7 linked regions of the Homo sapiens genome follow. The protein of the gene in region 4 interacts with the protein of the main gene of each other region in a biochemical or structural test. Each region holds a gene or a part of one and is shown on either strand. Other genes may lie near its edges.

Region 1 (4,048 bases), on a different chromosome or scaffold from region 4:
TTTCTCATAGAAATCACGGATAGCATCACCAGTCTACAGCCACTATCTATCACAGAATTTACATGGAAACCTACAGCCTCATTAGAAAAACTTAGCATGCAAATTTCATAAAGAAATTAATGAATGATCCATTCTACCTCACAGTGGTAATGTGATATAATGGTAATTCCTAAGAGGATTATGTGTCTTGTTTCCTAACAGCAAATGCTGTTTTGTTTTAAATTTGCAATGATCAAACAAATGCAGTTAGTATGTTTTTGATGAACCATGGATGAAAAGGGATCATTGATATTCTAGAGAATCAATCTATACTGTAGCTTTTCTCCTAAATCCCTTCTGCCCTTAAAAAACAATAAATGATTTCCTTATAATACGCCTCAATGCATGTTCTACAACTACATCTGCTGCAACAGGAATGCTGGTATTTAGTTTTAGTGACACTACTCTGATAGCAAATGTTCATTGATTCTATCATTTATAGGGCAATGACCAAGGCAATGTCTGGAAAAAAAAAAACCAAAACACTTTAATTTTTAAGACAACTGCAAGCACCTCAAACAATGGATTATTGTTACAACACTTGTTAGCTTTTCACAATCTAGTTATTGCAAAGGCATATGGATAAATGTTAATGGACAAAGTCAAAAACGAGGCACCTTAATGAATGTAAAATTTAAAATAAAAAGACATTCAATCCACTGACTTCTAAAAGAGGCTAAATATACCTCTATATATTACATTCTAAAATTGTATTGCCTACTATGGTTTGTATCCTGGAGTCTACAATTAATTTTAAGGAAATGCATAAACAAAACTGTGTGCAACCTGCAAAGGGAAAATCATTTTCTCAACTTCGTTTCATGGAAAGACAATGAAAAAGCTAGTAAAATTTGTTGTAGCCACACGTAAAGCTACCTATGGAATGAATGTGATCACTGTTATCTTTGAGCTGTGAGAAGTATTCTGCCCACTGCACTGCAAATTGTATATACCATACCTTGTGTTCTAGACAAGCATGATCATGCTTTTCCAAAAATATATGTATTTTTTCATTCCACACAATTAACACGTTTCTCCAATTTAATCTATGTAGAGCTTAACTTACAGCGCCCAGAGGAGGCAACATGACATGGTACTGAGCCATCACATTTTTAAAGGGAAATTGCTCTTCTTTAAAAGTACTTTTAAAAATATGCAAAATCACAAATGGGACTGCTAAATTATAATGCATATTTTAGAATGAGAAACATATCTTTTCTTCCTTTAAAGTGCCATATAGAGAATGACATCTTATAACCCAGAGCCACTTTGTTTAAAATCCAATGTGAAAAGACTGTTATGGAATGAAAAGTTTGCACAACTCCTTGGAGCAGTTAAAGTCCGCTACATGCAACATAGGCTACAAAGCACTCAAGACTTGGTAGCTTTTCTGAAATTTGAGTCCCCCTCCCATATTTAATGGAAAGTAACATTTACAGGGTGCATTTACATACACTATAATACAGGAATGATGTCCCTTTGCCAGAAGATAAAATTGTACATTTCCTTGCTATTTCTTGGTTCCAACTTGATAATTTCTTAAGATTGTAAATTATATAGTACTCAGCTAAAATATTTCTTCATAAATAGTTACAAAACCTGCCAAAACACAAAGGGGAAAGTATTTTTCATTCAAAAAAATGACATTTGAATGTCACACAACACAAGAAACAATGCTTAGAGACATGTTATTGTTTCCAGAAGAAAATGGTCAGTAAACTACTTAGCTGAAGACAAAAGACTACCCTTCCCCAGGATCACAGTGCACAAAAAGCAAAATGTCAAACAACAGTACCTCAAAGCAAAATAAAGGTCTGAGGATGAAGCCAGCTCACTTGTAATCCTGTTAAAGAATGAGAGTCACCGTTTAGGTCCAATGTACTGGGAACATTTGCTAGCTCAGAATGCAATATTGGTAGAATTTGCTAAGAATTCAACCAAGGATGCCGAAGGCATTCGCCAGCTGAGGCTCGTTTTTCTGGAACCATTTCTAACATCGGGATCAGGAAATCTGTAAACTGTGCAGCATCTTCATGGGGCCAGCCATACTTTTCCACAAGTACATCAAAGAGGCTCCAGGGCTTCAGCTTGGTGATGTGTCGCAGTTCTCCTACAGGGGAAAAAACAGGCCAATGTCAAGAAAGCTCCAAATCTGCATTCCCCATTGTTGGTCCAGTCAGGTTCTTTTCAGTGAAGCGGACAACCACCTGCTCAACACTTGTACAGCAACAACAAAGAACACCAGCTTTTCCCCACTAAGCAATAATCATTACATGTACATATGACCAAGGCATATTTCAAGTAAGCCTGGTGGATCTAAATAGAGGTTAATTAATAGTTCATTCACATTAGTTCTAAGCTTCTTTAAGTAAGTGGAGTGGGCTCAGTTTGCCCAGAGTGTTTTCTTTTCCAAAGGTTGAAGCAAGCCACTCTCATTTCAACCTGGGATCTTCCGTAAAATTTGCAAACTTGAGGCCAACCCAAATCAAACACCATTCATGTCTACGCATTTGTTGTAAGATCTAAGATCCTAGGACATTAATTTGTAAACCTTGAAGTTATACTTCACAAACTGTGCTAGCTGCAGTATGAAAAGTGTCGGTTACAGGCAGCTTTGGTTGACATAACAGAATGACTAACAAGCTAGTAAATGGCCTACGAGCTGTAATGGTCATTTCATAAGAGAAAAAAAAGGTTATTTTTAAGTCAAAACTGCAATAAAGGGCTGAGGGCAGTGGCTCACTCCTGCAATCCTAGCCGTTTGGGAGGCTGAGGCAGGAGGATCCCTTGAGCCCATGAGTTTCAGACCAGCCTGGGTAACATAGACCAGACCCTGTCTCTACTTAAAAAGAAAAAAAGTAGCTGGGCACGGTGGTACATCCCAGCTACTCAGGAGGCTGAGGCAGGAGCATTGCTTGAGTCCAGGAGGTCAAGGCTGCAGTGAGTCAAGGTCATGCCACTGCACTCCATCCTGGGACAGAGCAAGCGAAACCCTGTCTCCCCATAACCTTTTCAAAAAGGCAATAAACTGTCAAAAGCTCCAGATAATTTCACTGTGAATAACTCGTTTTCTCTGCCTGTTTGAAGTTTTCATAGGACATCCCACCCCTGCCCACAGACCTCCTTAGGTGCCCCTCAGTGCATCCTGAGCAGCTTCTGCAGAGGAAACACCCCCCTGTGCCCACACCTCAGAGCAGCCAGGTCTCGGTGGGGGGAGAGAGGCATTCAAGCACCTGCAGGGCACACTTCATGCAAGGACTGACTTCTCTCCCCTTTCAACTGCTTTAATTTAAACAAGGTACATTTTTTTCATGAGATGCATCAATAGATAATCAGTGCTCTGCTCACAAAGGTGTTCTCAGGAGGCTTGTTCTGTTTCACCCATTTATTCGAGTCAACTTGGAAAAGCCCTCCCGTTTAAAAACACAATGAAAAGGAAAGAGCATTACAGAAAAGTATAAGAACAAAAGGGGAAGTAGCCTACAATCCTACCCACAACTGCTCTTCTTTTGTGTCTATTGTGAAGAGTGTTCTTACACACTAGTATGTCTACAAAGTTGCAATCATGCTGTGCACAGGGTTCCGTATAAAGAATCTTTTAAGAGGGCTGCTTGCTAAAGGGGCTGAGATGTAAAATAAGCTTCTGTTTCCAATATGAGGACTGGAGCTAGAGTAAAGCATCGCATCCAGACTAGACATCAGGTCTGTGTTGATGAAGAAATGAACCTGTAATATTAGAGGCGGGAAAGGATCTCCTGTTGAAGGAAACACAGTCTCCATAAAAACAAAGTCTGAACAGAGACTGCAGGTTTATCCCTCTAAGCCTGAAATTCCGGCTCTAGGAATCCAGCCCAAGGAGATAAACCCTGGTTGCACCACCCCAAATTCATGCCTAATATATGCTGGCACAAAATTATATGTACTCGCAAAATTACGAAGAGCCAGTAATAGTAAAATGGTGGTTAAAAGAAAACCAAGGTAGATTCACTTAATAGTATTTAATATTACT
Region 2 (3,086 bases), on a different chromosome or scaffold from region 4:
GGGGAATAACATTTCCCTAATTGAGATTCAGAGCTAGTGTTGTGAATCGTCAAAACCAATTGCATATTTGCATATATTTATCTGTTAATGCTGATTTGGAATGAGATGTGACACAGTTCATCTTTGAACATGTCTTCACACAGATAGGTACCTTCCCAACACTACTATGTCCATGAGCATTTTTTTTTTTTTTTTGAGACAGGGTCTTGCTCTGTCACCCAGGCTGGAGAGCAGTGGTGTGACCTCAGCTCACTGCAACCTCTGCCTCCCAGGCTCGGATGATGCTCCCACCTCCATCTCCCAAGTAGCTGGGACCACAGGCATGTGCCACCAAGCGAGGCTAATTTTTGTACTTTTTTTTTTTTTGTAGAGACAGGGTTTCACCATGTTGCCCAGGCTGGTCTTGAACTCCTAGGCTGAAGTGATCCTCCCATTTCAGACCCCCAAAGTGCTGGGATTACAAGTGTGAGCCACTGCACCCAGCTCATGAGCATAAGATGTTTAGCTTAGCATATTTATTACATAAAACACATTTATACATTTTTATAAGATTCTATTAGACTCTATTAAATTTTTCTTTAGATAGTTGCCTTTCAACACATTAATCACTTCTCAAATGCAGATCAATGGATTCTGAAATATAAAAATTTCTTTTGGGTTTGCATTGAGGTCCCTAACACACTGCTCAAACTGTAGTTTGGGCTCAGATAATGTATCTGTGGCAAATGTGTGTGGGAATGGAGCTCTTCTTTTTTTAACTTTTAACAACATGGGAAGAGCTTAAAGCAGTAACATTAGTTGTGATTCAAACAATAGTTCTTCTTGAAATCACTTAACACAGTAGGAGTTTCACATAAACACTGTTTTTATCTTGTGGTTTAGGCTGAATTCCTTAAGAAACACTATCAAGTCTGCAGCAAAAGTGAATTTCCAAAACTATTCAGTGTTTAGTAACGGTGGTTCGGGGCAGTTCTCATTCAGAAAAATTTCAATCTTTGTCCTGAGCTCAAAACTTAAATGAAACTTTACCACTACTAAACCATTGAACTGCTGTATTACAGGCCATGTCGGGATATTCAGCTAATATTTCTGACAAAAATTCATGAGAGCTGTTGATAGTGAAGTCCACAAGAGCTAAAGGAAGTTCACTATTGACAATACTGGTTCAATAATGCATGATAGATTCAAATATTTCTCACAAAGTATCTGTTGACTTAAATAATACAATGAATAATCTATAGGCTTTAACACCTTATATTATTACAAGCTTTGTAAGTTGTCCAACTGAGCCATTTTCTATTCCACACTGATATGAGTTAGCTGTGTCCCCACCCAAATCTCATTGAATTGTAGCCCCCATAATCCCCACGTGTCATGGGTAGGACCCAGTGGGAGGTAACTGAATCATGGAGGCAGGATTTTACCATGCTGTTCTCATAATAGTGAGTAAGTCTCATGAGATCTGATGGTTTTATAAAGGGCAGTTCCCCTGCACACACTCTCTTGCTTGCCGCCACCTAAGACTTGCCTTGGCTTCTCCTTTACCTTCCACAACGATTGTGAGGCCTCCCCAACCATGCGGGACTGTGAGTCCATTAAACCTCTTTTTCTTTATAAATTACCCAGTCTCAGGCTTTTCTTTATAGCAGTATGAAAATGGACTAATACACACATATATTTCCACTACCAACAGTCATAACACATCTTAGCAGATTCCACTTCAGGGTGTACTGAATTCGTTTTCTCAACTTTTTGTTTTGAGACAATGTTCTCACTCTGTCATCCAGGCTGGAGTACAGTGGTGCAATCTCAGCTCACTGCAACCTCCACCTCCTGGGTTCAAGCGATTCTCCTGCCTCAGCCTCCTGAGTAGCTGGAATTACCAGTGCATGCCATCATGCCCGGCTAATTTTTGTACTTTTAGTAGAGATGTAGTTTCACCATGTTGGCCAGGCAGGTCTCAAACTCCTGACCTCAGGTGATCTGCCCACCTTGGCCTCCCAAAGTGTTGGGACTATAGGCATGAGCCGCCACACCTGACCAGTTTTCTCAGCTTTGAAAATACTTTTGCCAGTAGTTGTTCCACATAAGACTATTGATAGAGGCCAATTCTTCAGTTACTTCCAACTTGGTACTGGCTCCTCAAATAAAGAGCAATAGCGGAGCAGTGTGCATAACATATGGTGACCCCTGTCATGAGAGTCAGGGGAAACCACTCAAAACCATTTGCCTTTTTAGTCGACTACTGATGTCATTCCTAATGTCAACTCTTTGAGCAACTGTTGTCGTGGAAAGGCCAATAAACAAGTTTACTTTCTCTGAGCATGTTTCTTCAGCTGCAGTAATCAAGCATGATTTAATTAATTCACCATAAGTGACTTTCCTTGCTTGGCTAACAAATGAGCCATCTGAAACTTACTTTGGTTGTAGCTTCATTTTCATTTTTTATTTTTGTGAATAAATTCTGTGATGAGATATTCAATTTTAAATTTTCTAATTTTTCTGACCATTGCTTTCTTGTGAATTAGAAATATCTTGATGAGTGCTAAGATGGGAAGTAACAACATGTATTTTGGTTTTTTTTTACTTTTTGTGGAGATGGGGGGTCTCACTATACCACCCAAGCTGGTCTCCAAATCCTGGGTTCAAGTGATTCTCCCACCTCAGCCACCCAAATCGTTGGGATTACAGGCATGAGCCACTGCACCTGGTTGTATTGTGTTCCTTAGGACAGCTACCATGTCATTGCACTTTGCTGCCTAATTCAGTAACAATTCATACTCCATTGTACCTTAAAAGCACAATGATATTTGAAATCCACTTTTCTTGTATATATTGGTAATAAAAAATAAAATGTTGTAGCATGGGAATACAAGTGGCATTCAAAATGCTGCTGAGTTATAACTGTGTCACTGCAATTTACATTGCACAGAGCGGCAGGGCAAAATGATGAGAATGCCACATATTCTCATCATACGGTCTCTGCAGCAACTACTCAATTCTGCCACAGTAGCACCAAAGTGGCCGTGGACAACTTGCAAATGAATGTGGTTATGTTCCAATAAAACTTCATTTATGGACACTGA
Region 3 (3,500 bases), on a different chromosome or scaffold from region 4:
CCAGGCCTGGGAAACATATTGAAACCCCATCTCTACTAAAAAATACAAAAATTAGCCTGACATGACGGCACACACCTGTAATCCCAGCTACTTGGGAGGCTGAAGCAGGAGAATCGCTTGAACTGGGGAGGCAGAGCTTGCAGTGAGCTGGACCGTTCCACTGCACTCCAGCCTGGGTGACAGAGTGAGACTGTCTTAAAAAAAAAAAGAGGCTGGGTGTGGTGGCTCACACCTGTAATCCCAACACTTTGGGAATCCGAGGCGGGTGGATCACTTGAGGCCAGGAGTTCAAGACCAGCCTGGCCAACATAGCGAAATTCCACCTCTACTAAAAATACAAAAAATTAGCCAGGCATGGTGGCGCACACCTGTAATCCCAGCTACTCGGGAGGCTGAGGCAGAAGAACCGCTTGAACCCAGGAGGCAGAGGTTGCAGTGAGCCAAGATCACGCCACTGCACTCCAGCCTGGGCAACACAGCAAGACTCCGTCTCAAATTTAAAAAAGAGAAAAAAAAGATAGGCCCACATAATAAAAATTTTCATAGCTTATAAAATGAATAAAATCTAGGCCAGGCACAGTGCCTCCCGCCTATAATCCCAAAACTTCGGGAGGCCGAGGCAGGCAGATTGCTTGAGTCCAGGAGTTTGAAACCAGCCTGGACCACATGGCCAAACCCCATCTCTACAAAAAATACAAAAATTAGCCAGGTGTAGTGGTGCACACCTGTAGTCCTAGCTATTCGGGGGCTGAGGCGGGAGGATCACTTGAGCCCAGGAGGCTGAGGCTGAAGTGAGCTGCACTCCAGCCTGGGTGACAGAGCAAGACCCTGTCTTGAAAACAAAAAAAAATTAGAAACAACCCAAATATCAGTTGATAAGATGATGTGTAATTAATTATATGCCCACATAATGGAAATTTTCATAACTTGTAGAAAGAAGAAAATCTAGACCAGGCACAGTGGCTAACACTTGTAATCCCAGCACTTTGGGAGGCCCAGGCGGCAGGATCGCTTGAGCCCAGGAATTCAAGACCAGCCCAGGCAACACAGGGAGACCCCCATCTCTACAAACAATTTAAAAATTAGCCAGGTGAAGTGGCTCATGTCCGTAATCCCAGCACTTTGGTAGGCAGAGGTGGGCAGATCACCTGGGCTCAGGAGTTCAAGACCAGCCTGGTCAACATGGCGAAACCCTGTCTCTACTAAAAATAACAAAAATTAGCCGGGTGTGGCCGGGCACAGTGGCTCACGCCTGTAATCCCAGCACTTTGGGAGGCCGAGGCGGGCGGATCACAAGGTCAGGAGATCGAGACCATCCTGGCTAACACGGTGAAACCCCGTCTCTACTAAAAATACAAAAAATTAGCCGGGCATGGTGGCGGGTGCTTTAGTCCCAGCTACTTGGGAGGCTGAGGCAGGAGAATGGCGAGAACATGGAACTCGGAGCTTGCAGTGAGCCAAGATCGTGCCACTGCACTCCAGCCTGGTCAACAGAGCGAGACTCCGTCTCAAAAAAAAAAAAAAAAAAAAGAAACCCTGTCTCTACTAAAAATACAAAAAAAATTAGCTGGGCGAGGTGACGCATGCCTGTAATCCCAGCTACTTGGGAGGCTGAGGTGAGAGAATGGCGTGAACCCAGGAGGCAGAGCTTGCAGTGAGCCGAGATCGCGCCACTGCACTCCAGCCTGGGCAACAGAGCGAGACTCCGCCTCAAATAAAAAATAAATTAGTCAGGCGTGGTGGCGAGTGCCTGTAATCCCAGCTACTCAGGAGGCTGAGGCAGGCAGAATCGCTTGAACCCAGGAGGCAGAGGTTGCAGTGAGCCGAGGTCGCGCCACTGCACTCCAGACCAGGCGACAGAGCGAGACTCGTCTCAAAAAAAAAAAATTAGCCGGGCATGGTAGCGCACACCTGTAGTCCCAGCTACTCGCGAAGCTGAGGCAGAAGAATCACTTGAACCCAGGAGGCAGTTGGCCAGGCGCGGTGGCTCAGGCCTGTAATCGCAGCACTTTGGGAGACGGAGGCTGGTGGATCACCTGAGGTCAGGAGTTTGAGACCAAGCCTGGCCAACATGGTGAAGCCCCATATCTACTAAAAATACAAAAAAATTAGCCAGGCGTGGTGGTGGGCACCTGTAATCCCAGCTACTCGGGAGGCTGAGGCAGGAGAATCACTTGAACCCAGGAGGCAGAGGTTACAGTGAGCCAAGATCACGCCACTGTACTCCAGCCTGGGCAACAAGAGTGAAACTCCATCTCAAAAAAAAAAAAAATGCAAACTCTCCCTAAAGTGGAAGAGTAAAGGACTATCATCAATCACTCACAACCTGGTATAAATTTGTCCCCCTGCCTTCCTCCTAAAACCTGGCTGACATCAGCTACATGGAGAAAAAGGGACAGGGACCTAAGAAGTTTCTGGAACATATAACATTTGGAGAAATAGAGCCTGTCTGGAGAGGAACTGAAGAAAAGAAAAGTGCCAGGGGACTTGGAGACCTAAGGAGAAGGATAGAGAACCTGAGTTTAGAGAAAGACAAATCTCTGCCTAACTCAAACCAAGGCCCCAGAAAGAGATCAGAAGCTCTCTTCCTCCTCCCACCTGTCCTGCAAGCTCTGTTCCCAGAACCCAAAACTGCTATTAGTAAATTGGCACTTCAACTAAGATGCCAAATAAAAAGCTTTGTAGGTCAGACTAGTAACCCAACCACATTGCTTTTATGGGAAAATGTGTCCCACATTCCAAATAATCAACTTGGAAATAATCTTTGGGAACATACAGCCCTTTTATATGTGTGAGATCACCATTCTCTGCAAAGGGACAGCTCTCCTCGGAGGTTGCACTGAGCCAAGATCATGCTACTGCACTCCAGCCTGGGTGACAGAGTGAGACTCTGTCTCAAAAAATAAAAATAAAAAAAGGGATGGCACTCCTGACATTATTTAACCGGGATATTTCACAGGAAGAGAGCCTTCAGGCCAGTCCATGTTTGGGAAAAGGCTACCTTACCAGGAAGCACTATAACAAATTACTGATGAAACACACACAAGTTGCCAGAACACACAATCCCAAATCAAAGAAACAAGCCTTCAAAGGCAGGATGGTGATAAATGAGGTCACGCCCACAGTCTCTCCAGCCTCAGGTTATAGAGACATAGGTTCCAAGGGACAGTGGATTCCCAACAACCTCACAGTATAAAATCAACATTCAGAATTTTAGAAATGTTCCTTCCTAAGCCCCCCAACAAAGACTATAATATATAGCATTATCATTGGCCATTTGAAACTCGTCTACATGTTCAACCTGTACAACTTTGAAACTTTGAAAAAGATAAGGGCAATCAGCATTTACTGATCGCCTACTATGTCCCATGCTTTGCACACATCTTATAAAACACATACTACAATTCTATGAAGAAAGTATAGTAGCCTATAGTTATTTTAAGAAATAACTGAGGCTTTTTCTCAGGGAAAAAAAAAGAAATTTTAAAAAAGAGAGAAGT
Region 4 (3,500 bases):
TGCCCAGCTAATTTTTACAGTTTCCTTTTGTAGAGACAGGATCTTGTTTTGTTGCCCAGGCTAGTCTCAGACTCCTGGCTTCAAGTGATCCTCCCACAGTGCTGGGATTACAAGTGTGAGCCACCGAGCCTGGCCTCATTTATATATATATATGTGTATATATATATAATATATATAAAATATATTTAATATATATAATATATATAATATATATATAATATATAATATATATTATATATGTTTTTATATATATTATATATTATACATATTATATATATAAAAATATATATAATATATAATATATAATATATATTATAATATATAATATATATAATATATATAATATATTAGATATATAATATATACAATATATTATATATATAAATATATATAATATATAACATATATAATATATACATATATAATATATAATATATAATATATATAAATATATATAATATATAAATATATAATATATAAATATATAATATATAATATATAATATATATAAATATATAATATATAAATATATAATATATAATATATATAATATATAATATATATAAATATATAATATATAATATATAATATATAATATATAATATATATTATATATAAATATATAATATATATAAATATATAATATATAAATATATATAATATATAAATATATAAATATATAATATATAATATATATAATATATAATATATAAAATATATAATATATAATATATTTATATATTATATTATATAAATATATATATTATATTTTAATATATATTATATATATAAAAAAAATATATATAAAACCAAAGAGATTCCTTTTTTTTTTTTTTTTTGAGAAGAAGTCTAGCTCTGTCGCCCAGGCTAGAGTGCAGTGGTGCGATCTCGGCTCACTGCAACCTCCACCTCCCGGGTTCACGCCATTCCCCTGCCTCAGCCTCTCGAGTAGCTGGGACTACAGGCGCCCGCCACCACGCCCGGCTAATTTTTTGTATTTTTAGTAGAGACGGGGTTTCACAAAGCCAGGATGGTCTCAATCTCCTAACCTCATGATCTGCCCGCCTCGGCCTCCCAAAGTGCTGGGATTACAGGCGTGAGCCACCGCGCCCAGACTGCCTGATGTTGCCCTGATTAATTACCCAAGAAGTCTCTTTTTGGGGGACAGGCCATGGGAGGGGGATGAGGCAAGACAATAGTTTGGTGCCACTGTTCAATTAAGAACAACTGGAAACAGGTACCACTGAAATGACCTGCAAATCAATGGCAGAACTGGATCCGATCCAGGACAACTCTGTTGACACATGATTTAGAACGCTGGCTCCAATTCAGGAGGAGGAGCTGTCCTTTACGCTGGGGGAGGAGCACCGTCCCACGGTTCCATGAATTTGTCCTTCCCAGCACTTCGTTCTTGGCATTCTGTGGCGTCTGTAGAGCACATGACAAGCAATTACAGAGCCAGGGGTCTTCTAATATCCTTGCTATCCCAGGGAGGAGGACACAAGCATGAAAGTGCATCCCTGGACTTTTTGTGGTGAAACTGCAGACTTAGATCCCAAGATAACATCACCAGCCTTCTCAGTAAAACAGAAAACTGGGCCATAGGCTGGAAGGAAAACCAGCAGCTGGGACTAGAGATAATTATGTCCCTCTTCTCTTTGATGCCTGGATTTAGCAGTAGGGTGGACGGGGCCAAAGGAGAGGAATGAATGAAACATTATTATCAATTGCTTCAGATTTAATTCTCACTTGCTGATTTAAAACTGTTTTTAGTGTTGGACATTGATCTAAGACTCTTTCCTCAGGGGAGTTAATATAGCAAAGGGAATTTAAACTTATTTTCAGTCTGTTGAGGAGGATTTTACCCTCTTAAGTTGGGATTCTATGTGAATGACTTCAAAGTGCTGTGCTAGTCCTGGCAGACAGACAGAAGATGGGCGGGGAGAATGCCCACCTTTTACTAATTTATAAGTTTCCCCAGTAGGTGTTCTTCTGATACCCTGTAAGAATAAGACATGAAGGTCTGTAAACATGCAAGGCTGGGGTCCACACAGCCTGATCTGCAGTCAGGACTGCCTCTTATCACAGCCAAGCACTTACTAAAGGTCATCTGTGCCCATTCAAAATCTTGTATGTACACCAGACTTGCTATAATAATCACATATCCTAAATAAGGTGCAAGCTGGCCGGGCGCGGTGGCTCACACCTGTAATCCCAGCACTTTGGGAGGCCGAGGTGGGTGGATCACTTGGGTCAGAAGTTCGGGACCAGCCTGGCCAACATGGCGATACCCCATCCCTACAAAAATACAAAAATCAGCCGAGCATTATGGTGTGTACCTGTAGTCCCGGCTACGGCGGAGGCTGAGGCGGAATTGCTTGAACCCAGGAGGTGGAGGTCGCAGTGAGCCAAGATCGCGCCATTGCACTTAAGCCTGGGCGATAGAGCGAGACTCCGTCTCAAAAAAAGATTAAAAAATAAGGTGCAAGCTGATGGAGTAAAAGTGCTGAGGAATAAGCTCTTCAAATCATTCAATGATTTTAAGAAAATTTAGTTGAATGTTTTGGAAAGACTTCATAAAGGTGAGTAATATTTACTATCAAATGGGATGGTAAAGACCATGAAAAAAAAAAAAAAAAGTAAAATCCCTGAAGGATTCTGCATTCAGATGACTCCACAATGTAAACCCAAAATCCAAACTGAAATCGGAGGACCCAGACAGTGCATTATTAATGTGGCATAGGCAAAACAGACAAGAAATTTCAACTGGCTGATCCAGACACCAAGAGAAGACCTGAGCCCTGTGTCAAAAGATGGGTGAACAAATTCACATTTATATAGTTTCGGTTAAAGTAAAATCTTGGAAATCTATGTGTATCATTTAAATGATTTTCTGATATAATGACTTTTTAAAACTGATATATTGTTACTTAGTCTTGATTTAAGCGATAAGAAGGCTTCTTAGGCCGAATTTATTAATTCATAAATGACTATACTTATTGGATACATGGAATTCCTAAGATTCAGTACACCACAAGTTTGCTTTATTTAATCCTTTTCTACTCTACTCTCAACCAACCACCCTGAAATCTGTTTGCCAGTTTACCAATGTCAGCACTCTGTTGAATTACTTCATTTGTAAAATCTCTTCTTTACCTCCTTCGCCTTCCCTGACTGCCATTACTTTCTCGATCAGCCCTCACTTTTTATTCAACGAGTAAACTGGAAAGATCTCTGAACCCGATGTACTAAGCCAGGTCACCCTGCCCGGGATGGCTGGCGGGAAGGCAGGTCAGTTTGGGCTGGTGGAGAGCATGCAGTTTATTCCTGGCATGGAGTGGATTTCAGGAAGAAGATGAGGCAGGGACAGCAGATGACAAATCTCCGCTTGCCTGTGGCAAGAGTTCTGTGTGTACATTTAAACATGGGTGTGTGCAATTTTCAGAGGATCCACTTCTGCCCAGTTTGGTGCAGGGGAGCTGGGTAGTTGCCGACTTTTC
Region 5 (3,437 bases), on a different chromosome or scaffold from region 4:
GAGATCTGTACCAGAGTGTTACTACCTATTAAAAAGCAAATTTTTACAATGAATAAATGTGGTGCATAAAATTACCTACACTTAAACATTTATATTTTTATTAGGGCTGTCCTTTAAAGGTTGTATGACTGCCACCAATAATATTGTTTAAGTCAATTAAAGGTACACAAAATTGAAGATAAATATTTCATTTCTAAGTTCTATTCATTAGAAGACAAAACAGATAAAAGCATAATAAATATTTTTTTGCTTTTCAAATCACTAAAGATCAAGACAGTTATACAGCCTTATCTTCCCCCCACTGAAAAACCAAACCCATTGATAATAGATTTGGGGTGACACTGAACAAAGTGCAGGTACTGCTTACTTGCTAAGATGGTACTAACAGTACCATTATAACATGAATAAGAAACATGAGAAAGAAATAAAGGGCATCCAAATTGCCAAGGAAGAAGTCAAATTGTCCCTGTGTGCAGAGATGATCTTATATATAGAAAAACTTAAAAGACTCCACCAAAAACTCTTAGAACTGATTAACAAAGTTGCAGTATACAAAATCAAAATCAGCATACAAAAATTAATAGTTTCTATACACCAATAACTAGCTGAAAAATAACATCAAGAAAGCAATCTAATGTACAATAGGTACAAAAAACCTAGGAATAAATTTAACAAATGAGATGTATAATCTCTACACTAAAAACTATAAAACATTGAAGAAAAAAATTTAGGAAGATACAAAAAAGACATCCCATGTTCATGAACTGGAAGAATTAATATAAAAATGACCATATTACCACCCAATGCAATCTACAAATTCAGTGCAATCTCCATCAAAATACCAAGGACATTCTTCACAGAAATAAAAAGAAATCCTAAAATTCATATAGAACCAAAAAAGACCCACAATAGCTAAACCAATCTTGAGCAAAAACAACAAAGCTGAAGGCATCGTATCACCTGACTTCAAAAATGTATTACAAAGCTATAGTAACCGAAACATCATGATATTAGTATAAAAAAGGACGCAGAGACCAACAGAACAAAATAGAGAATCCAGAAATAAATCCATGTATTTACAGTCAACTCATTTTTGAGAAAGATGACAAGAACATTCACTAGGGAAAAGCCAATCTCTTCAATAAATGGTGCTGGAAAAACTGGATAATCCACATGCAGAACAATGAAACTAAACCCCTATATCTAACCATACACAAAAATCAACTCAAAATGGATTAAATAAGACCTTAAACTATGAAACTATTGGAAGAAAACAGAGGAAACACTGTTATTGATATTGATCTGGACAAAAATCATATGGATAAGACCTCAAAAGCTCAAGAAACAAAATCAAAAATAGACAAATGAGGCCAGGTGCAGCAGCTCATGCCTATAATCCCAACACTTTGGGAGGCCAAAGCGGGAGGATTGCATGAGCCCAGGAGTTCGAGAACAGTCTGGGAAATATGCTGACAGCCCCGTCTCTAAAAAATTTAAAAATCAGCCTAGCATGGTGGTGCATGCCTGTGTATGGGCCCAATTACTCAGGAGGCTGACGTGGAAGGATCACTGGAGCCCAGGAGGTTGAGGTTGCAGTGAGCCCTGTTCACGCCACTGCATTCCAGCATGGGTGACAGAGAAAGACCCTGTCTCAGCAATAACAAATAGACAAACAGGATTATATCGAACTAAAAAGCTTCTGCACAGCAAAAGAAACAGAATGAACAGAATAACAGAATAATGCAACAATCTGCAGAATGGGAGAAATTATTTGCAAATCATTCATACAACAAAGAATTAACATCCAGAATAAAAAAAATAGTAAGAATCCAATTTTAAAAATGGTCAAACAATCTGAATAAAACTTTCTCAAAAGACATACAAAGACCAGCAAGTATATGAAAAAGTGCTCAACATCACTATTCATCAGGGAAATGCAAATCAAAACCACAATGAGCTATCACACCCAGTTAGAGTAATTATCATCAAAAGACAAAAAATAAGTGCTGATAAGGATGCAGAGAAAGGGCAACTTTTTACGCACTGTTGGTGGGCTCTTAAATTAGTAGAGCCATTATGAAAAACTGTTTAGAGGATGCTCAAAAAACTACAAACTAGAACTACCATATAATTTTGCAATCCCACTGCTGGGGGTATATGTCCAAAATAAATAAAATCAATTATGTCAAAGAGATATCTGCACTCCCATGTTTATTGAAGCACTATTCACAATAGTCAAGATACAGAATCGACCTGTTTCCATCAACAGATAATGTGGTGTATACATACACACATACAGAAAATGTAGTGTACACACACATACGTGCACGCAATGGAATACTAGAATACTACTCAGCCATAAAAAAAGAATGAAATTCTGTCATTTATGACAACAAGGATGAGCCATGAAATAAGCCAGGCACAGAAGGATAAATACCACATGTTTTCACTCATATTTGAAAACGTAAAAAGTTGATCTAATGGCCATAGAGTGGAATAGTGGTTATTCAGGGCTTAGTAGAGGAAGACAGAGATAAGTTGGTTTATGGATACAATTACAGCTCAAAAGGAAAAATAAGCTCTAGTGTTCTACAGCACTGTAAGCTGACTACAGTTACCAATAATTTACTGTAAATTTTCAAATAGCCCAAACAAAGAATTTTGAATGTTCCCAACAAAAAGAAATAATAAATGCTTGGGGCAATGGATATGCTAACTACCCCAATTTAATCAATACACATTGCATACATGTATCCAAATACCACACTGTACCCCATAAATATGTATAATAATGCGTCGATAAAAAATGATTTTTAAATTATTTAAAAAACGTGAATAAGTCAAATAACAGATTAGTGATCTAGAACTAACCAACCATTTTAGTATATTTATCATATGGTAAAAATATTGCCTGTTAGAACAAAGCTAATGAGGTCAATAGCATTTGTTTAAGACAAAGAAAACAAAATAATCTTAGTTTATTTATATAGCCATGTAAAAAAATGATAAAGACTAACAAGCAGCCAAGACATCTAATCAGATGAGCACTGTTACTAGTTTTGATCTGGAGACAGTCTTTGGGTCAAGGGTAGACAACTCCACAGAAGACAGCCTTTCAATAATCCTTTATTATACAATGTTCCCTTTCCTTCAGAAACACTAAATGCCAAGTCAGCAATATAACACAGATCAAACATAAATTATAGTTAGCAATTCCTAAATGTATCAGAAATAATATACCTTAAGGAACAAAACCTGTCTTTGAATCAATCTGACTATAATCAGGGAGGGTTCAGTCAGGAGACAGAAACCAAGGTGGTGATTTGAATGGGGAGAGTTTAATATAAAGAATTAAAGTACAACAAAGGATGGGAATGATGTAAATAAATAAAGTAAAAAATAATGAAAATGTAAAAACTGTAGCTAGGAAAACTCCT
Region 6 (3,500 bases), on a different chromosome or scaffold from region 4:
GAAACAATTCTAAGTGTTACTAGCTGGTAAACACATAACAAATCACTGTTAATATAAATATTAAAAGTAGTGGGATGAACAAAAAGTATGAATCCAAAGCTATCGTTACCATACAAAACTACTACTGCTGAAATTCTCAGATGAAAGGGTCAGTATGTTATGTGAGTAATGAGACAACAATCAAAAGACACAAACCACACAGAACATTAACAAAAAGGAGGTAGGGGACAAAACAAAAGGATGGCCAGAAGCAACAGACAGCTCCAAAATTCATATTAAGTTGTACGTATTTCTAGACTTAAGTGTATAATTATTATAAATTTTTAATGCAAGCCATGATTTTTGATTTAGGTTAAATCAACTCAAAGCCAGCAAGTAATTGTGCATAATTACAATTGAGCAGGGTTCAGAATTAACATATGAAACAATAAATAACGGAAGGAAAAGTCTATGTCAAATAGTAGGTGGTATTTTAAGAGTAATTTAACAATATATTAGGGAGAGACAAAATACATTATACCTGACCAAACTGAAGTGCTATCATACATTTTGACCTTTAGAAACTACATTTTAGGCCAAAGATAAGGATACGATCTGTACCTGGGAACAAAACACCACCTTTGATCATTTCTCCCATGATGCACCCAACTGACCAAATGTCAACTGAAAACAAAATGCAATGACATTAACATAAAGATTTTGGTTAAAATAAAAAAAAAAAGAAAGAAATAAAATCACACACACCATGTATACTTTAAAATTATAAAAAGCAGTATAAAATAAAAATGAGTGACAGTGAATGTGCTCTGACTACCAGCAGAGACTGTATGTCCTACTGCCAGATGCAGCCTACAAATATTTCAGCTTCTTATCTCAACAATTTTTGAACTATAATAGCCACAAACTTTATGCCTGTTTAAAAACCCATCTGTGTAAATGTAGCATATTCATTTTCATTAGAGAACATAAAGAAGTTCATCGCCTAACTAATTAACTGCTGCAGCAGCACAAGGATACAGTCCCTTCCTGGAAAGAGGATTTTGTGGCAAACCATTTCTCCCATAATGCACCCCACAGACCATAAATCCACTATATGTTTGCAGCACAAAAGAAGGAAAAGCAAAGCAAAAGGTCATTAAAATCAAAGAAGCATAATATGACTGCATTATATAAAAACTGCAAAACGTCACGAAAAGAAAAAAAGTGATTGTAACTTTAGCTAACGGAATAATTTAAAACACAAATTATTTTTTGAAAGTCTGGTTCACAAAAGAAAATGTAAAGTGTGGCATTTTAACTACATATCTAATTTCAAAGTGAGAGCTATGCACAGAAATTGCATAAATAGAAAAACCCTGCATGTTTGTCCCTGAGAACTTGTTTATAAAATATGAAATAGAACCAAACACAAACTTTGTAAATAAAAATGTACATGAGGTAGTAAAATTATAAAAATAAAATTGTTATACTATACTATTTAGAAGTTCAACTGTGCATTATACTCTCTAAGAAAAAAGCATGAGAAAATAATTCAGCATATTAAAATATCTAACAGAAATAATCTCTATGAATAATTATGATAAAAAAGTTAATCTAAAGCTCTTTGGAATTTTTAAACTGGATTTCCCAAATACATTTAACTGAGAAGTGCTATGCTTGTTCTGAATTAAAAGTCCATTTGTTTTCTTGGCAACATCATGCTACATTTACCCTACTATCCCAAAAGGAACAAGTGCACAGAGAATGAACAACTAATCAAGGAAAACTTAGTAAGAGAAATGTATTTCATGTTTCCTACCTAAAGTTTTTTAAACCCATAAAACCAAACTGCTTTTGGCTTAAGAAGTTAGTTTTGGCTAGATACAGTAAGTCAGTTCCCACGAATTGAGTATGAAGAGTCTCCTGGAAGACTTACTGATGACCCTTGCCAACTGTAAATGGGAATCCCAATCAATGTTGACAAGAATCTGCTAGACACAGAAACAGACAATTTGGAATCTCCACTTACTAAGGGAAACTGACAACACATCGTGGCATTTTATGCCTTTGGGTTTGAACATCACACAAAAAGGAGAGAGTAAGTGCTTGCAGTGTAACAGGAAAAGAGGGAAGAATGAGCAATTTAGAAGGAAAAGCCTTAGAAACTTGCATTTAGTTGTGACATCTGAAGGTCCCAATTCTTTAAAATGACAAGTGGAAAACGGCACAAATAGATGTCAGAAAGACACGTGCCCTTTACTCATGTTAAAGGACTTAGAAAATTAAAGCCTGTACTTTCTAATACAGTACATTCTTATTAAAAGGCTGCCAGTTCACTGAAGAGTCTTAAGAGCTAAACTGGAAATTACTTTTGGAAATACTGTGGAACTAAAGTTTCCCTAAAATGTCATATTAAAATGAATGAATATTTTCATATTTATGTCATGGTTCAGCTTTCAAGGATAAGATTTTAGAAAAAAAATTTAATATTTATAAATTAGTGCCTCAGAGAAAAATTTTTTCTAAGGTTTCCGTTTTTGACAAAAATCTATTAGAATAAATCTTCTCTACAGATTTTATAGAGAATGTTAAACTTTAAATATCCAGCTTACAACTTATTTGGTAACTTTCAGAAAAGCTCATTTTTAAACAAAAGTATTTTGAAAGCTGCAAGCATGAGAGAAGATATTATCTGGGCCAGTGAAGACTAGGAACATAAGTCTGATTCATGCACAACTCTAGCTGTAAACTAACTGCTTAGTCTATTAAGCAGTTAAAAATATATTGATTACACTGCTTTCCAAAATGCTCTGAGTAGCCTGCAATAAAAGGTACATAAAGCAAAGTTGTTAAAATGGGTGGGAGGCCAGGCGTTGTGGCTCAAACTCCTGTAATCCCAGCACTTTGGGAGGCTGAGGCAGGTGGATCACCTAAGGTCAGGAGTTCAAGACCAGCCTGGCCAACATAATGAGACCCTGTCTCTACTAAAAATACAAAAATTAGCCAGGCATGGTGGCACATGCCTATAGTCCCAGCTACTCGTAGGCTGAAGCAGGAGAATGGCTTGAAGCCAGGAGGTGGAGGCTGCAGTGAGCCAAGATGGCATGACTGTACTCCAGCCTGGGCAACAGAGTGAGACTCCATCTCAAAAATAAATAAATAAATAAATAAATAAATAAATAAATAAATAAGATAAATAAAATGAGTGTGAGGTGTCATTAAAAGGAGGAAGTACTTATGTTTAACCTTGCTGGCTAATGTAGTTATAATCATTAAGCATTACATTTGACTCCGTTTCCTAGGGTGGGAGTGGGAAGGCAAGAAGGTGATCTACATAATTCTTAACTAAAGAGGAACCATATGTCAGTTCATTTTTTATTCTATTTTATTTTTTGAGACAGAGTCTTGCTTTGTCGCCCAGGCTGGAATGCAGTGGTGCAATCTCGGCTCACTGTAACCTCCACCTCCCGGGTTCAAGCGATTCTCATGCCTCACCTCCAGAATAGCTGGGATTACAGGTG
Region 7 (4,222 bases), on a different chromosome or scaffold from region 4:
CTACAGGTGGGGGTAAAGAGGTAGCATAGCCTGCCTGGTGTCACAGAGCTATGGGTGATGAGGGACAGCGCCTGTGTCCCTAGTGGCTACGCAGGGCACTGCCCCTCCCTGCACCACTGGATGCTCAGACTGAAGCTGCTGTGGAGAGCAGGAGCCCCAGGCTCCTCAATGATGTGGTCTGGACTTTTTAACACAGACATCAGGGGTGCGGAATCAGTCCACTTTATCCCCTTGTCTCTAACACAAGCTTCTGCAAACTTAGGCTCATACACAGTCTTCCCGATGTCCCTGCAAGCTCCTGACATTGCATGCAACATTTCGTAGGTTTGTGCGTTTTTCTGGGGAACGTAGATTTAGACTTTCATCAGATTCCTGAAGGAATATGTGACCTAAAAAAGGTTAAGAGCAGTCTGATGGTTCTGGAAGGAAGAAGTCTGAAATTGATTAAACAAGGCCTAGCTATGCCTGCTACCCTCGGTTTTCCTGCCATGGCCACACCAGGGCTCCCTTGCCCCTGAAATTCTCTGTGAAGGCTCACGAAGGGTCTCTCTACCAAGTTGCCCCCACAAAACCCAGTCTTAATGATATCCATCTCCTCTTGGGGCAAAACATCACTTTTATTTTCACTTTGAGCACTTGAGTCACATCTCAACTCCATCTCACTGTACTCATGACGCAGTCCTGCCAGGACCCAGTCTTGGTCACTCCCTGAAAGGCAGCTTCATGGCTAATCAGGGAATTCTTGGGTTCTAGGCGAGCACTGGAAAACACCTGGAGAGGGGTCCCTGCACAAGTTTGTAGACAGCCTCAGTCCTCCAGAGCAGCCCCAAACATTTTGTTCCTGCCCCTACCCGCAAAAAAAGCACATTCAGAAAAGCTGAAAGTCTGCAGATAAGAGTGAACACACGTACACATGGGGGTATATGTGCTCAAGGGAGGTGGTGCATGCCTGTAGGATAGCCTCTGTGTGTGTGTGTGTGTGTGTGTGTGTGTGTGTGTGTGTGCAAGCAGCCTTCCTGTATACAGTCACAGGGCCACCTCCCACACATATGCAGACACCAGCATGAGCTCACACATGCCTATAACACCCATACTCCCACATAACCCTGTGAGCCCAGGCCTCACACATGCACACACATGCGTGTGCACACACACGTACATCATCCTGTGTGCATGACCCCAGTCTTCACGTAGATGTGCATATCAAGACCTCACAGGAACACCATTGTGTCCGCATCTCATATGAGCATCCTCACACACCCCTAGACCTCACACACATGTGCCTTCCTATGTGCACACAGCTCTAACCTGCCATACATGTGCACATTTAATGAGTCATGTTTACACCCTTGTTCTCATTCAACCCAGCCAACAGCACTCTTGTAATACTCACACACATGCACCCTTGCAAGGCACACTTGCATTTTCAGGCCTTACACACGAAGCACCTCTTCCTGGTGCACATGCATGAATGCTTGCACACCCTGGCAGGGCACACCAGCGTACCCCAGTGTCACAAGCAATTTCCCTCAAAAGCCCTTCTACAGCCACACACATCACTCCTCAAAATGCACACTAGTACACACACATTCAGAACTCACACCAATACACACCTGCCTCCAGGGCCCCTCCCCCCGTGCTCCTGCTGCCTCAGCAGAAACCAACCAGGGCATCGGTGCTCCTTTGCCCACAAGGCAAACTCTGCCTCCAAAATGCACCCAACCCTTGACCCATCCCAGGATCCTCCAGAAACCCAGCTGGGGACATCCAGGAATCCCTCCCTGACACTCCACACCCTACTGGGCCACCCACAAGGGCCTCCCCTCTTTCCTCATCCTCCCATCCTTCTCTACACAGCAGTCATCAGGGCAGAAAATGAGCTCTGGGCTGGGCAACTTTGCTTGTCCAGAGCCACTGCACCCTTCATACCCTAGCCCCTGAAACAGCGGTGCTCCCCGCTACAGCTTTCCTGATTTCCTCTCCCCACCTCCCAACACCCGGGAAGCCTGTCATGCTCAGATATTAACCCCTACTGTACTGACGCCCTCACTCCTGGCAGGAGCTGAGAAAGGGGAGGTAGGGAGGGAGAAGTTGGCCACTCTGTACAGTCACTGTGGGTGTCTAAAGTCAGGAAGAACTACCGGGAGCTGGTGAATTCTCTGTCACTGGAGGTATCTAAGTGGAGGGCGGATGGCCACCTCAAGCAAAACTAGAGAAGGAATTCCAGCTTTGGACCCAGCTGACTAGGAAAATCCCTTTTTAACCCTAAGTCTCTAAGAATCTGTGTGTATCCAGGTTGTGTGTACTTGTGTGCATTTTGTGTGTATGTGTGTGCACTGGCATACACTGTCAACCCTTCATCCCTACATACACACTGGCCTGGCTAGCTTGGCACATCTGTGCACCCACAAACATACCCACGCCCGACTCTGGACACTCTGTACACAGGCAGGTGCCCCCAAACCCATGCAGCCTGCCTTCATCTGTGTACAAGGAATGCTCCCCAAGCACTGCAGGCACACACACCCCACTAGAGACCCTGACCTCCCCGCCCCCCATGCCTTCCAGGACTTCCTGAGGCACAACTCACTTGCCCAATTCCTCGAAGAGCTGGTACTCTTCCGTGAAGCGGGTGCAGGTGATGGTGGCCATCCTGGCGCTGGGCAGGCAGGTGAGGCTTGGGACTGGGGGACCAGGACTGAGGCGCTGCTGCTCTGCTCCCGAACCTAGGGACCACTTGCCTGCCCGTGCTGCCGAGTGCAAACAGAGAACCGGTTTGACTGACGAGCCCGGGGCTTCTGAGCAGGGCACTGTGGCTGCTCACAGCCTCGCGAGCCTTCGTCAGCATCCAGGTCCCCATGGCAACCACCTCCAAAACGCCCTGTTCCCGTTGCCCCGGTAACTGCCTCCCCAACACCTGCCTGCCTTCCACTGCGAAACCTGCTCTCGGACGCCCTGACCATACCGCACACAATACTGCAAGCCTGTGTGGGCCTGGGGGTGGGATGGACCCAGCACCCCTGGGGTGATGGACCCAAGGAGGGCCTGGAGGAGGTGGAATAGAGCAAACTTTGTCCACAAGTGATCTTTTCTCTTCCCACCTCCCCCACCTCCAACTGTGGGGCCCTTGTAGCAGACGGGATGGGATTAAGTGGGGCAAAAAGGCAGTTGCCATGGTAACAGCCAGTGGGTGCCGCATTCCGGATGGTCCCCAGGAACGAATGACAGGATGCAGTTACCCTGGCAACTTCATCTCTAGAGAGACAGGTATTGCCCCGTTGCCCTGGCAACAGCTGGGTTCTAAGGTTTACAGGGAAATGATGGCTAATTCACAGGGATGGCTCTCCCTCTGTGGATCACTGTAGTCTCTGTAACTGTCTCTCTGTTGCCCTCTGTTTTTTTTTTTTTTTTTTTTTTGCTTCTGCCTCTGTCTTTCTTGTTATGCTCGTGCTCTTTCAGCTCTCTTACCACCTTGTCCATCACACTAGCACTCCAGCTTGGCGCAGAAGTGCAGAGGACACCCCAGGATTCTGGAGGGAACAGCCCTGACTGCCTGCTCACCCCCACCTCTCACAGCTGTGACAGTTGCTCCCCTCCAGAGCCCTCCTCTGCAACCTCTCCCCAACCCCATGCCCCCAACGGGACCATGGAAATCTGGTCTCCTGGTGCTCATGTCCCAGTTTCTGCTTGTGCTTCCAGTCAAGGTAAAAAAAAAAAAAAAAAAAAAGGCGAGAGGGGGCTGTGGGGAGGTGAGCATAGCATGGCTTACCCGGGCTAGGCCACTGGCCAGAGACTTGCCATGAAATCTTCAATCCAAAATTTTCTGGGCACCTTCCCTGCCAACTTCAACTCTTCAGGGCATCAGCCATACCTACAGCCACAAGATCTTACTCCAAGGTCTTGGAGTTAGGAAGAAAAGGGACTGGAGTTTAAGACTAAGGATCTGAGTTTGAGCTCTGATTCCTGGACATTTATTATTTATATTATTTATTTATTTATTTATTTATTTTGGAGACAGAGTCTTACTCTGTCACCCAGGCTGGAGTACAGTGGTGCAAGCTCGGCTCACTGAAGCCTCCGTCTCCTGGGTTCAAGTGATTCTCCTGCCTCAGCCTCCCAAGTAGCTGGGACTACAGGCGCACACCACCACGTCTGGCTAATTTTTTGTGTTTTAGTACAGACAAGGTTTCACCATGTTACCCAGGCTGGTCTCAAACTCCTG

What was found.
Region 1: of the proteins of MAPT (region 4) and SRPK2, one has a biochemical effect on the other in vitro, tested with the Homo sapiens proteins (2 studies listed by BioGRID, with this or other methods).
Region 2: of the proteins of MAPT (region 4) and DYRK1A, one has a biochemical effect on the other in vitro, tested with the Homo sapiens proteins (2 studies listed by BioGRID).
Region 3: of the proteins of MAPT (region 4) and PTPA, one has a biochemical effect on the other in vitro, tested with the Homo sapiens proteins (2 studies listed by BioGRID).
Region 5: of the proteins of MAPT (region 4) and CDK1, one has a biochemical effect on the other in vitro, tested with the Homo sapiens proteins (2 studies listed by BioGRID).
Region 6: of the proteins of MAPT (region 4) and MAPK8, one has a biochemical effect on the other in vitro, tested with the Homo sapiens proteins (2 studies listed by BioGRID).
Region 7: of the proteins of MAPT (region 4) and CAMK2A, one has a biochemical effect on the other in vitro, tested with the Homo sapiens proteins (2 studies listed by BioGRID).

The regions. Positions count from the first base shown.
Region 1 is NC_000007.14:105,115,874-105,119,921, forward strand, and holds the end of SRPK2 (SRSF protein kinase 2), read right to left. Parts: intron 2,150-4,048; coding exon 1,965-2,149; 3' UTR 501-1,964; downstream 1-500. UniProt on the Homo sapiens protein: Serine/arginine-rich protein-specific kinase which specifically phosphorylates its substrates at serine residues located in regions rich in arginine/serine dipeptides, known as RS domains and is involved in the phosphorylation of SR splicing factors and the regulation of splicing.
Region 2 is NC_000021.9:37,523,773-37,526,858, reverse strand, and holds the end of DYRK1A (dual specificity tyrosine-phosphorylation-regulated kinase 1A), read right to left. Parts: 3' UTR 501-3,086; downstream 1-500. UniProt on the Homo sapiens protein: Dual-specificity kinase which possesses both serine/threonine and tyrosine kinase activities. Exhibits a substrate preference for proline at position P+1 and arginine at position P-3.
Region 3 is NC_000009.12:129,114,415-129,117,914, reverse strand, and holds part of PTPA (serine/threonine-protein phosphatase 2A activator), read right to left. Parts: intron 1-3,500. UniProt on the Homo sapiens protein: PPIases accelerate the folding of proteins. It catalyzes the cis-trans isomerization of proline imidic peptide bonds in oligopeptides. Acts as a regulatory subunit for serine/threonine-protein phosphatase 2A (PP2A).
Region 4 is NC_000017.11:45,901,054-45,904,553, reverse strand, and holds part of MAPT (microtubule-associated protein tau), read right to left. Parts: intron 1-3,500. UniProt on the Homo sapiens protein: Promotes microtubule assembly and stability, and might be involved in the establishment and maintenance of neuronal polarity.
Region 5 is NC_000010.11:60,788,478-60,791,914, reverse strand, and holds part of CDK1 (cyclin-dependent kinase 1), read right to left. Parts: intron 26-3,437; coding exon 1-25. UniProt on the Homo sapiens protein: Plays a key role in the control of the eukaryotic cell cycle by modulating the centrosome cycle as well as mitotic onset; promotes G2-M transition via association with multiple interphase cyclins.
Region 6 is NC_000010.11:48,421,677-48,425,176, reverse strand, and holds part of MAPK8 (mitogen-activated protein kinase 8), read right to left. Parts: intron 1,090-3,500; coding exon 1,018-1,089; intron 664-1,017; coding exon of another isoform or gene 592-663; intron 1-591. UniProt on the Homo sapiens protein: Serine/threonine-protein kinase involved in various processes such as cell proliferation, differentiation, migration, transformation and programmed cell death.
Region 7 is NC_000005.10:150,286,974-150,291,195, forward strand, and holds the start of CAMK2A (calcium/calmodulin-dependent protein kinase type II subunit alpha), read right to left. Parts: upstream 2,801-4,222; 5' UTR 2,653-2,800; coding exon 2,591-2,652; intron 1-2,590. UniProt on the Homo sapiens protein: Calcium/calmodulin-dependent protein kinase that functions autonomously after Ca(2+)/calmodulin-binding and autophosphorylation, and is involved in various processes, such as synaptic plasticity, neurotransmitter release and long-term potentiation.